4 linked regions of the Homo sapiens genome follow. The protein of the gene in region 1 purifies or fractionates together with the protein of each later gene. This does not show direct contact. Each region holds a gene or a part of one and is shown in the gene's direction. Other genes may lie near its edges.

What was found. The genes of interacting proteins can lie anywhere in the genome.
Region 2: the proteins of ZNRF2 (region 1) and ATP1A2 purify together in Homo sapiens (affinity purification with western blotting; one study listed by BioGRID). This does not show direct contact.
Region 3: the proteins of ZNRF2 (region 1) and IDH2 purify together in Homo sapiens (affinity purification with mass spectrometry, with the first as the bait; one large-scale study listed by BioGRID). This does not show direct contact.
Region 4: the proteins of ZNRF2 (region 1) and ANKRD52 purify together in Homo sapiens (affinity purification with mass spectrometry; one large-scale study listed by BioGRID and IntAct). This does not show direct contact.

Annotation. Positions count from the first base shown.
Region 1 is NC_000007.14:30,326,097-30,329,596, forward strand, and holds part of ZNRF2 (E3 ubiquitin-protein ligase ZNRF2), read left to right. Parts: intron 1-3,500. UniProt on the Homo sapiens protein: E3 ubiquitin-protein ligase that plays a role in the establishment and maintenance of neuronal transmission and plasticity. Ubiquitinates the Na(+)/K(+) ATPase alpha-1 subunit/ATP1A1 and thereby influences its endocytosis and/or degradation.
Region 2 is NC_000001.11:160,139,759-160,141,924, forward strand, and holds part of ATP1A2 (sodium/potassium-transporting ATPase subunit alpha-2 precursor), read left to right. Parts: intron 1-134; coding exon 135-226; intron 227-1,535; coding exon 1,536-1,564; 3' UTR 1,565-2,166. UniProt on the Homo sapiens protein: This is the catalytic component of the active enzyme, which catalyzes the hydrolysis of ATP coupled with the exchange of sodium and potassium ions across the plasma membrane.
Region 3 is NC_000015.10:90,088,969-90,092,468, reverse strand, and holds part of IDH2 (isocitrate dehydrogenase [NADP], mitochondrial isoform 1 precursor), read left to right. Parts: intron 1-824; coding exon 825-916; intron 917-1,824; coding exon 1,825-1,990; intron 1,991-3,500. UniProt on the Homo sapiens protein: Plays a role in intermediary metabolism and energy production. It may tightly associate or interact with the pyruvate dehydrogenase complex.
Region 4 is NC_000012.12:56,251,885-56,255,384, reverse strand, and holds part of ANKRD52 (serine/threonine-protein phosphatase 6 regulatory ankyrin repeat subunit C), read left to right. Parts: intron 1-432; coding exon 433-520; intron 521-664; coding exon 665-807; intron 808-1,105; coding exon 1,106-1,318; intron 1,319-1,584; coding exon 1,585-1,663; intron 1,664-1,982; coding exon 1,983-2,097; intron 2,098-2,298; coding exon 2,299-2,381; intron 2,382-2,487; coding exon 2,488-2,605; intron 2,606-2,814; coding exon 2,815-2,883; intron 2,884-3,069; coding exon 3,070-3,210; intron 3,211-3,289; coding exon 3,290-3,370; intron 3,371-3,500. UniProt on the Homo sapiens protein: Putative regulatory subunit of protein phosphatase 6 (PP6) that may be involved in the recognition of phosphoprotein substrates.

The DNA of each region.
Region 1 (3,500 bases):
TATCTAGAATACAGTCTTCTTGTGTATTGTGATATTTAACAATTTTTTTAACTTTTAAGTTGAGGGGTACATGTGCAGGTTTGTTATATAGGTAAACTTGTGTCATGGGGGTTTGTTCTACAGATATTTTGTTACTCAGGTATTAAGCCTAGTACTCATTAGTTATTTTTTCTGATCCTCTCCTTCCTCCTACTCTCCACCCTCTGGTAGGCTCCAATGTGTATTGTTCCCCTCTTTGTGTCCATGTGCTCTCATCATTTAGCTCCCACTTACAAGTGAGAACGTGCGGAATTTGCTTTTCTGTTCCTGTGTGAGTTTGCTGAGGATAATGGCCTCCAGCTCCATCCATGTTTCCACAGAGGACATGATCTTCTTTTTTATGGCTGTGTAGTATTCACACGGTATATATGGACCCACATTTTCTTTATCCAGTCTATCATTTGATGGGCATTTAGGTTGATTCCATGTCTTTGCTCTTGTGAACAGTGCTGCAGTGAACATATGCATGCATGTGTCTTATAACACAAGGATTTATATTCCTTTAGGTGTATACCCAGTAGTGGGATTGATGGGTCAAATGGTATTTCTGTTTTTAGGTCTTTGAGGAATTGCCATACTGTCTTCCACAATGGTTGAACTAATTTACACTCCCACCAACAGTGTGTTAAGTGTTCCTTTTTCTCTGCAGCCTCTCCAACATGTATTTTTTTTTGACTTTTTAATAATACGCATTCTGACGCTTGAAATGGTATCTCCTTGTGGTTTTGATTTGCATTTCTCTAATGATCAGTGATGTTGAGCTTTTTTTCATATGATTCTTGGCCACATTTATGTCTTCTTTTGAAAAGTGTTCATCTCCTTTGCACATTTTTTCATGGGGTTGTTTGCTTTTTTCTTGTAAATTTGTTTAAGTTCCTTATATATGCTGGATATTAAACCTTTGTCAGATGCTTCGTTTGCAAAAATTTTCTCCCATTCTGTAGGTTGTCTGTTCACTTTGTTGATAGTTTCCTTTGCTGTGCAGAAGCTCTTTAGTTTAATTAGATCCCATTTGTCAATTTTTGGTTTTGTTGCAATTGCTTTTGGTGCCTTTGTCATGAAATCTTTGCCTGTTCTTATGTCTATAATGGTATTGCATAAGTTGTCTTCCAGGGTTTTTATAGTTTTGGATTTTACATTTAAGTCTTTAATTCATCTGGACTTAATTTTTGTATGTGGTTTAAGGAGGTTGGCGTGGGGTAGGGGTCCAGTTTCAATCTTCTGCATATGGCTAGCTAGTTATCCCAGCACCATTTATTGAATAGGGAATCCTTTCCCCATTGCTTGTTTTTGGTCAGGTTTGGATATTTGACAGTTCTTAATTTCCTGATTTAACTATGCCTAAGTCATTAAACTGTTCTGCTAGATCACTTGTTTGGTGTCTTAAGAACTAATATATAACCTTCTGCTTGGGGATACTATAACAACCAAATATTTCGAATTTTAAATATTTAACAGTATTTCAATCTAGAAATTAATAAATTTCATGCAATAAGTAAATAAACTTGTAGGCATTCTTAAAGTTGCTGACTGAAAGCTTTAAAAAATAAAAATATATATATTTTTGTTTTTAGAGTCAGGATCTTGCTGTGTTGCCCGGGCTGGAGCTCAGTGGCTATCTATAGGCACAGTCATGGCACACGACAGCCTCAAACTCCTGGGCACAAGTGATCCTCCTACCTCAGCCTCCTAAGTAGCTAGGACTACAGGTGCATGCCACCATGCCTGGCTTTTATTTTTTATTTTGTAGAGATAAAAAATTCAAAGTATGTATTAATTGTATAAACATTCACAGCAAGAAGCAAATACAGCTTCTTAATAAAAACCGTGTATAGTTTTTGAGGTTTTAAAACTAGCTCTTGGACAGTGGCCAGTTATGAGTAAGTGAAGGAGAAAGGAGCTTTGCCTGGACTGATTTGGAGGGTTACAGAGAGGTGGCAGGTTAATAATGTACTTTCCTATCATAGGCAAGGGGAATTCTAATGCCACCTGGTTTTAAAGTCAGACCCCCCCCAAAATGTCTGTCACAGGTGATGAGTCCAAATGGAAATTGGCTCCTTTAATACCTCATAAGCAAACCATCTAGGATTATTATAAAGTAGAACAAGGTAAAGCCAGAGAATCTCTAAAACTGAATCTTTTTAGTCAACTGGATTCCTCACAATTTTATATTTGAATTCCTACATGTTGATTCCATAGAGAGATACATCAGATACATTGGGCCTCTGAATTGTGTTAGTGCTCAAACAAGAACATTTTTTTCAGCATACTGTTCATTTAACTTACACTTTTGCAGCCTTTTCCAAAGTAGCTAGATCTGAAATTTTGAAATTTATTTGTTAAGTGAATGTTAACTGTCTATAAACATTCATAGTTATAACACAAGAATAGTGGGGCTTGTTTTCTTCAGACTGGATATATTTATATAGATAAGCTCCTGAATTGGATGAGTTCCAGAAATTCAAATATAAGTTGATGATTTAGAGTTTCAGACTCTTTGTCACAGAGATGATATTTGAAATATTGGTTTTTCAGACTAGCTCACCAAAACCTTCTTATTTTTTTAAATGCACAATATATCTGAACACCCACATCCTGGTACCTGAAGAAGAAATTGGCTGACTAGGTAGAAACTCTCAGGGATTGGGCAGCTGGCTCGGCAGAGATCCCAATGGGACGCCCAAGGCTGTCAGGGCAGGGAAGGATTTTGAATGATGTGGGTGGTATTATCTATTGCAGATGGTATTTTGGCAGCTTGAAAAAATTAAGAATGCCACAGTGAGTATTCAACAACATAGATTACCTTCATGTGAAGGACTGCCTGTTTCATATACTTTTCCCTCTTTCATGTGCTTCATTGTTGAGTTTATGGACCTAATAATTCCTTGTATAGTCTATGAATCTAATACAAATTTTATGAGTATAGAGGCTCTCTTCATTTCCTTGCTCCTTCTAGGATATTTCAGACAAGCCAACAAATTAAATATTATTAGCAAATTCTTAGTTTTTTTAAAAAATTTTATTATGTGTACATAATAGTACATTTATAGGGGTCCATGTGATATTCAGATACAAATGTACAATGTGTAATGATCAAATCAGGATAATTGGGACATCCATCACTTCAAGCATTTATAATTTCTTTGTATTAGGTACATACCAGTTCTGCTTTTCTAGTTATTTTGAAATACACAATAAATTATTGTTAACTATAGTTGTCCTGTTGTGCTTCCAAGCACTAGGTCTTATTCCTTTTATCTGAAGGTATTTTTGTACCCATTAATCAAACCCTCTTTATATCCCCCTTCCCCAGTACCCTTCCCAGCCTCTGGTAACCATCATTCTTCTCTCTGTCTCCATGAGATCAGTTTTGTTTTGTTTTGTTTTTTAAGCTCCCACATAATGAGTGAAAATATGCTATAGTTGTCTTTCTGTGCCTGGCTTATTTCACTTAACATAAT
Region 2 (2,166 bases), on another chromosome or scaffold:
GCGGCCTGAGTAGTCATACGGGGGGCCTTCAGCCCCCTCCAGGATCCAAGTTCTGATCGCTTTGAATGCTCCTTTATGTGACAGCCACCAAGCCAACCTCTGATGCTGCTGACACTCTCCTCCATTGCTTTCAGAGTCACCTGGTGGTTCTGCGCCTTCCCCTACAGCCTCCTCATCTTCATCTATGATGAGGTCCGAAAGCTCATCCTGCGGCGGTATCCTGGTGGTAAGCCCCTCCACATTCCCCCCAGCAAAGTGCAAGCCCCACCACCAGCTCCTCCCTCCAGGACCACACGCAGACTCCACTCCCACTACTGGTTCCTGCTTCTGTTCCTCAACACCCTCAGATCCTGGGGTCCCAGGTCCCAGGAGCCCTGACTCTTTCGAACCTGTTGTCTCTGCCCTCTTCCCATCAGATTCTAAACCCCGCCTAACTCACAGTTGGTCTCCGAGGCCCTCCACCTTCCACCTGAAACCACAGAACATCAGAATTAGAAGGGCCTTTCCAGGTCACCTAGTCCCACGTCCATATTTTACAGATAGAGGAGGCTCAGAGGTGAATCTGTTCAGGGTCGTAAAGCAAAGAATAGCAGGACTGGTACTAGAACCCAGGCCTCCTGATCCCCACTCATCAACCGACAAGTTATTGTTTTTCCTACAAGCGTTTTTTAATCACTTAGTAGAGGTTAAAATATGATGGCTTACAAACCAAATACTGTCCAGGAATACTGTTTGGTTTGACCTGTGCCATATTTTGTGTGTGTGGGGGGAGGAGGGTGGATTAATTGGTCCGATATAGAAAATTTAGGGTCTTTCACATAAAATCTGAATTCGACTTCTCCTGAAGATCAGAAGAGCTGTTAATCCCATGTCCACATCTCTGCACAGCAAGAATGGACAGCTGCTCCCTTAGACTCTCGTTCGTCACCTGAAGAGGCCCTGTGGGCGTTTGCATTTTCACCCTCGACCTATTCTGCCCCAGCCTCCAATGTGCTAAATACAAGTCTCCCCTAAAGGCAGGTTCACCCTCCCTTCCTTTAACCTATGGCCCCAGCTCACTGGACCTCCTTCTCCTCCCTTTCACCTTCTTTTTTTTTTTTTTTTTTTTTTTTTTTTTGAGACGGAGTCTCGCTCTGTCGCCCAACCAGGAGTGCAGTGCAGTGGCACGATCTCGGCTCACTGCAAGCTCCGCCTCCTGGGTTCAAGCAATTCTCTTGCCTCAGCCTCCAGAGTAGCTGGGATTGCAGGCGCATGCCACTATGCCCGACTAATTTTTTGTATTTTTAGTACAGACAGGGTTTCACTGGGTTAGCCAGGAGTCTTGATCTCCGCCTGCCTCAGCCTCCCAGTATGCTGGGATTACAGGCATGAGCCACTGCACCCAGCCTCCTTCCACCTTCCTAAGCCACTTCCCCCAGTGCCCTTCACCAGGCTTCTCCTTCCACCTGGCTTCAGCGACCCAAGCCCCTAGGAAATTGATCTCTTGCCTCCTTTTAAGCTCATGCTGCAATCTCCACTCCCAATCTCTCTAACAGGCTGGGTGGAGAAGGAGACATACTACTGACCCCATTGGAAGAAGAACCAGGCATGGAAAGATGGGGAGCTCTGGAGGTGTTGTGGGGATGGTGATGGAGAGGGATGGAAATAACGGGTGGCATTGGGTGGCAACATTTGGGGAGAGATAATGAGGCAACTCAGCAGGCTAAGTTGCGGGGTATATAAATTGGGGTGATGACCCCATAGACCTAACTGTGAACAATCAGATTAGACACTATGTGTTAGAGTCCCCCCGACCAGATCCTTTTCCATCCCACTCCACTATGTTGTCTATTTTTTCTGAGGAATTAAGGGTTACCCCACCCTGCCCACTCCCATCCCTTCAACCCCACTTCCTACTGTAATAGATCAGCATCCAAAAGCAGGAACCCATCTAAACCAGAAGGAAGCCCTCTCAGATCACCCCAGCCTCACTCCATTTCCCACTTCCACCCCCGTTAGCTTCCTGCAGGACTCTATCCCTGGCTTCCCCTTCAGACCTTGCAATCACAAAAGGTTCTTCTGGTGAGTGCAAGAGCCTGAGACTGGAAAAGGTGGACTTGTCTCCCAGTCGAGGCTGGTAAGGGACCTTCAGGGAGAGCTGGGCAGACAGGTGGGAGATGGAGGTAG
Region 3 (3,500 bases), on another chromosome or scaffold:
GCATCAGTGCATTCCAGCCTGACCAATGGAACAGGACCCTGCCAAGAAAGAGAGAGAGAAAGGGAGGAAGGAACGAAAGGAAGGAAGGAAGGAAAGAAAGGAAAGGAAGGAAAGAAAGGAAAGGAAGTAAGTAAGGATGGATGGATCCAGGTGCTCTAAACCAGCAGTTCCCAAAGTTTTTGGCACCAGGGGCCAGTTTCATGGAAGACAATTTTTCCACGGGTGGCAGGGTGGTGGGCAGCGGGGATGGTTTTGGGATGAGTCAAGTGCATTACATTTATTGTGCACTTTATTTCTATTATTATTACATTGTAATATATAATGAAAAAATTATATAGCTCACCATAATGTACAATCGGGGGGTCCTGAGCTTGCTTTCCTGCAACTAGACAGTCCCATCTGGAGGTGCTGGAAGACAGTGACAGATCATCAGGCATTAGATTCTCATAAGGAGTATGCAACCTAGATCCCTCGTGTGCGCAGTTCCCAGGCATGAGCTCAGGTGGTAGTAGTGCTCACTCACCTGCAGCTCTCCTCCTGCTGTGTGGCCCAGTTCCCAACAGTCCGTGGACCTGCACTAAAGGCTGTGGCCTGGTCTGCTGACCTCTCTCCAGAGCCCACGGTACTAGTCCATGGCCTGGGAGTTGGGGACCCCTGCTCTAAGCAGTGAGGGAGCTGATTTGCAGACGGGGGAGTGGACACCGGGCAGCTGGAGCCCTGGCTTTCTGCCACTGTCTCCTGGTGAAGGGCGGGCCTGGCTGGGAGGAGAGGGCCCCCCTCCAGCCTCCCCAGGGGCATGATGCGCTGTGTGTCCCTGCTTCTAGATGCCGACAAAAGGATCAAGGTGGCGAAGCCCGTGGTGGAGATGGATGGTGATGAGATGACCCGTATTATCTGGCAGTTCATCAAGGAGAAGGTAGTGCCCCCTCCTGAAGTGGGTGGCTCTCCAGGTGGGCTGGCCAGGGATTGTTCTGTCCCACAGGGTCTTCTGGACTGCAGGTCCCTAGGACCCCCCCGTTGTCCTGGTAGGCAGCAGCAGCTCTGTTTCTCTCCCTCTGTCTACCCTTCTTTCACATCTGGTCCACTAATTGTTCAGAAGTCGTCAGGCGGGGGCCTGTCCCCAGCAGTCCGTGTTGTGATGGTGCCAGATCCCACACGTTCTGTCAACTTTGAGAAGCTTCAAGGTTAATCCTGTATCATTTCCATCTTGATCCCCTACGTTTTGCCTCACTTCTTGAAAAGGAGTGAAAAGGGAACAGGGCTGGTGTGTAGGGCAGTGACCCAGCCTGCAGTTGTGACGAGCCACCATGGCAAAGGGGTCCCAGAGTGGCCGCTTGGCTTCTCCAAAGTTGCCGTGGTCTATGTATGTCCAGGAGAGCATGTAGTCCTTGTGAAGGCCCCACACTGTGTGTGCGTTCATGGGACAAAGGTTGAGAACTGTCACTTCCAACTGTAAGATCTCAAAGCACTTGAGAAGAGGAAACCAGTTGTATAGAGAAATCTAGATGTACTTGGGGTTGGGGTTTGGCTGAGTTGATGGGCCATGTGAGGGGGGCACACAGGCACAGTGGAGGAAGAACCCTCCAAAAGACTGCGGCCTGGCCTGCCAACCTCTCTCCAAAGCCCCAGCCTCTGCCAGCTCTGGCCAGGCCCCACTGAGAAATGGCTGACTCCAGCTTTCTGCTGCGCCCCTCCACTGGCCTTCACTCATCCCTGTTTTGACTGACTGTCCCCTGCCATGGCCTGCAGACTTCTTATCCTGCCCTTTGTTGTCATGTCCCTGAGTCACTGGGGTGACGCCTTGCTCTGGCCCTCTGTCCCCAGCTCATCCTGCCCCACGTGGACATCCAGCTAAAGTATTTTGACCTCGGGCTCCCAAACCGTGACCAGACTGATGACCAGGTCACCATTGACTCTGCACTGGCCACCCAGAAGTACAGTGTGGCTGTCAAGTGTGCCACCATCACCCCTGATGAGGCCCGTGTGGAAGGTGCGAGGGTGTGGAGGTGGGCGGGCCAGGGAGGGTCACAGGCTTCTCCCACCGGCCTCTCCAGACTTGGGGTGGGGCAGTTGGCCATGTCACTCATCTCGGGACTGGGAGGTTGGGAGGCTCCAGAGCTGGGGCTTTCCTGAGGCCAACTGCACCTGAGGCCAGTCTCCCTGTGTGTGCCTGGTGGACAGTGGGGCCTCAGAGGTCACCTTTGATGAGGCTGGGGCAGGCGTGGGTAAGGGGCTGGCCTCAGGTTCCACGGTTAGGGCACAGCAGAGCTGAGAACAGAATCCATGTCTTCCATCTCCCAGGCCAGTGGTGTTTCTGCTTCACTCTGGCTCTGACAGTGGTAGGTGTCATCGGTGACAGGGCTGAGGAGGAGGAGGAGGAGGAAGGTAATGCTGATGTGGTCACAGTAAGGATGGCTTCTTTGGGCAGTAGTCCATTCTGGCGTGGACAGTCTTGCAGGCAGGTATGCAGAGAGATTGTGCAGAGGAGTGCTGTGTGTAAGGCCTGTGTCCTTCAGAGCCTCAGCAGCCTCTGGGGAACATTGCTGTTGCCCTCCTGCCACTGGCTTGGCCTTGCAGGTCTGCCTCTGTCCCCATGGTCATGCAGGGTCACTGAGAGGTGCCCCCACCAGGCCTAGACTGGCTTCTGGTCCTTGGCTGTTGGGGCCGCTCTCGAGGGTTCCATGAAGTCACAGCAGTGTGTGTGCAGAGGGGCCAGGTTTGGATAATTCGAGAAAGGATGGTTGAGGAGTTTTCTGAGCTCTCTCTTCCTACTTTCCACAGTTGGAGGGAGCTGGCGGAAAGTACTCGAGATACATCTGCAAATTCCCCAGGCCTGCCCCTGTCCTGCAGGTCATGCCTGACCCACAGCACTGGGATCATTTGAGTGTTGAGCTCTTCATTTCACCTGAACCTTGGGAGTTGTGTATCCCCATTTATGGACAAGGCAGGAGAGGGTCACAGCCTTAGGAACTGGGGTGGCGTTGGGGCCAGGACCGGAGCATGTGGAGTGGGCAGTGTGTTGTCAGGCTTCGTCAGACAAGTCCTTCCCCCGGACTGTACTCCCTCCATGTGTGATGTGGGAATCATAATGGCCAACAGAGCACTTAGCATGGACCGGGCACCGTTCTAGGCCCTTTACACACGAGCTCATTTCGTCCTCACGACAACACTTAGGCTGGTTATTTTTCCAGTAATTTTTTTTTACAGCTTTGGTTGAGCCACTTTTGTAAGCCTCACCATTAAAACTGGCAGACTTGCTGGGCATGGTGGCTCACACCTGTAATCCCAGCACTTTGGGAAGCCGAGGCGGGTGGATCACCTGAGGTTGGGAGGTCGAGACCAGCCTGACCAACATGGAGAAACCCCATCTCTCCTAAAAATACAAAATTAGCTTGGTGTGGTGTCACATGCCTGTAATTCCAGCTGCTCGGGAGGCTGAGGCAGGAGAACCGCTTGAACCCAGGAGGCAGAGGTTGTGGTGAGCCGAGATCGCGCCATTG
Region 4 (3,500 bases), on another chromosome or scaffold:
CCCTGTCTCTACTAAAAATACAAAAAATTAGCCGGGTGTGGTGGCGGCCGCCTGTAGTCCCAGCTACTCGGGAGACTGAGGCAGGAGAATGGCGTGAACCCGGGAGGCGGAGCTTGCAATGAGCCGAAATCATGCCACTGAACTCCAGCCTGGGTAACAGAGCGAGACTGTCTCAAAAAAAAAAAAAAAAAGAGTTTAAGAACCACCAGATCACCTGAAGAGACTCTCTTGTTTCCCTTAAAGTTCCAAATCTCTCCAGTATCTCCTCCTTAGTGCCTGCTTCTGCTGTTCCCTCGAGTCCTCCAGGTTGTTTTGCTCATGGAAAAAGGCATTAGGCTGCCTCAGCCTTTTCAGGAGATGAGGCCTCTGCTCTTAGGTAGGTTGAGGGCACGAATCTAGCTCTGAACAGGTGTCTTTCATATCCTGATGCAGACGGTGAACCTGCTCCTCAACAAGGGAGCCAGCCTGAATGTCTGTGACAAAAAGGAGCGGCAGCCTCTGCATTGGGCAGCTTTTCTAGGTGAGAGAGAATACACGGGAAAATCAGAAATTTGACATTTAGGATTCCTAGGGCAGGGATGTGGGGTTGCAGCCTTTGAAGAGAGGAGTGTAGGGTCTTAGAGTTTACCTTCTACTTCCTTTAGAGTGTCTTCTCTTTTCTCAGGGCACTTGGAGGTCCTAAAACTGCTGGTGGCACGGGGAGCAGACCTCGGCTGCAAGGACCGCAAGGGCTATGGGCTGCTCCATACAGCTGCTGCCAGTGGCCAGATTGAAGTGGTGAAGTACCTGCTTCGGATGGGAGCGGAGGTCAGGGCTTTGAGCTCTGGGGTTGGGAACTATGGGCAGCAAGTAGGAGATTATAGTCTGTTACGGAGATATGAGGTATTGGGATGTTGGTATAGTTTTGGGAAGTTGGAAGGACGTGGTAGAGAGGGTCTGAATAATGCTTACCTTAGCCATAGTGCCCTTAGTACCTTAGTACCTTGGGTCATAAACCCGAGAGGAAATGAGGCAGTCGTTGGATTTCTGGGATCTGGAGGCTACATGTGCTGGCTTCTACTTTGTTTAAACTGATACCACCTTACTCTCACCCCTGAATATCCAGATCGATGAACCCAATGCTTTTGGAAACACAGCTTTGCACATCGCCTGCTACCTGGGCCAGGATGCTGTGGCTATTGAGCTGGTGAATGCCGGAGCCAATGTCAACCAGCCGAATGACAAGGGCTTCACGCCACTGCATGTGGCTGCAGTCTCCACCAATGGCGCTCTCTGCTTGGAGCTACTGGTTAATAATGGGGCTGACGTCAACTACCAGGTGCCTGAAGGGATAAGGCTTAGACCAGTGGGGAGCGAAACTTGGATCTAGGGGTCCTGACTGTATCTGGATAGCTCTCTTGGGGAATTATCCACTTGCTTCCTAGGGTAATCAGACCTTGCCAGGGACTCAGGAAAGAGTGGGCTAAGAAGGTGCCATATGACCCTTTTGTCCTTAGAGATATGTCCTTGGAAGGGAGGTAGGGCATTCTCTGTGCTTTGCACTGGAAAAAAAAACAAAAACAAAAACCCACCATGTTTCCACAGAGCAAAGAAGGGAAAAGTCCTCTGCACATGGCTGCAATCCATGGCCGTTTCACACGCTCCCAGATCCTCATCCAGAATGGTATGGACCTGGGAGACTTTGTGCTCTCATCCCCTCCTCCCCCAAGGAACTCATTTCTAGAATCTAGGGAGGTTCCTAACTTCCTTCTCCTGCCCTCTTCCAGTAGGATAGGCCCTTGGAACTCTGACCAAGGGACCTGTGGAAATGGCCCTGCTCTGCCCTGCCCAGTCTCCTAAGGCCTAGAAACAGGATAAAATATGTAGAATCCTGGGCCTGGCACCTGATGCATACATAGTAGGCACTCAAATCATGGCTAGCTCGCGAAAGTGGTCTTAAGCCTGAGGTCTGCCTGAGCTTGTGTGTGTGCATCCCCTCACAGGCAGCGAGATTGATTGTGCCGACAAATTTGGGAACACGCCACTGCATGTGGCTGCTCGATATGGACACGAGCTGCTCATCAGCACCCTCATGACCAATGGCGCAGATACCGCCCGGTGAGTCAGGGCCCCGACTCCACTTCTGGGCTGCCCAGATCTGCACAGACTGCTCACATCAACCATGGAGGCACAGATAAGCTTGCCAAAGGGCACCTTGGAGAACCTCCTACCCTGACTCTAGGGTGGTGGTAGGTCACAGAAGAGGTCTTACTTGGTCCCTCCTTGACCCAAGGACTGAGTCCCTCAACTTCTCTCTAGGCGTGGCATCCATGACATGTTCCCCCTGCACTTAGCTGTTCTCTTTGGATTCTCTGACTGTTGTCGTAAGCTTCTTTCCTCAGGTATGTGCTGATGGGCTGGGGATTGGCAGGTGTATAGGAGAGCAAAGGCCTTTCCCTCCCTGCTGAACACTCTCAGATGTGACCTGTGGCTGTTCTGTGCCTCCAGGTCAGTTGTACAGCATTGTGTCTTCACTCAGCAATGAGCATGTGCTTTCAGCTGGGTTTGACATCAATACACCTGACAACCTTGGCCGTACCTGTCTTCATGCTGCTGCTTCCGGAGGGTGAGTTCTCTTTCTCTCTCCCATGCTTTGAGCAGGGAGCTGGGCAAAGGTCTGGGCCCCTCATTCTTGCCTGCCCAGATCTATTCCCCCTCTCACAATGAAAGCAGTCACAGCAGAAAGGGCTTGCTAGTCCCATCCTTCCTTAGCCCCACCCTGGGCCTGTGGCTTCCCTTTGAGGCTGTAACTCTCTTAACACATCTTTCTTTTAGGAATGTTGAATGTCTTAATTTGCTGTTGAGCAGTGGAGCTGACTTGAGGAGGAGGGACAAATTTGGCAGGTATGCTAATATGCAGGGGTAAACATAGGGAATATCTGATTAGAGAAACAAATGGTAGAGGGAGGAAGGGTTTAGATTGGAGACTTAAATAAGGAGAATGTTACAAAGCAGCATTTGGCTGCACATCTGATTGCATTCGTATCTGTCTCTGATTCTCTTCCCCACCCTCCTTCACTTCTTCCCCAGGACCCCACTGCACTATGCAGCTGCTAACGGTAGCTACCAGTGTGCAGTAACATTGGTGACTGCTGGGGCAGGTGTCAACGAGGCCGACTGTAAAGGCTGCTCTCCCCTCCACTACGCTGCCGCTTCTGACACTTACAGGAGGTGAGGCTACCAGTCTGGTCCTTCTCAGCCCCATTCACCTCCCTGAGCCTGGCCCTAACTTTCTCTCTCTCTTCCCCAGAGCGGAACCCCATACACCTTCCAGCCATGATGCCGAAGAGGACGAGCCACTGAAGGAGTCCCGCAGGAAGGAGGCCTTCTTGTGAGTAGCAGAGAGGGCCCCTGGGATGTGCTTTCCCCAACCCATGCAAGCTCTGGCCCTACTGTCCTCCTACCTAATCTGAACCTCTACCCTATACTGCTGCTGTCCTGCCGGTCAGCCAGCAGTGTGT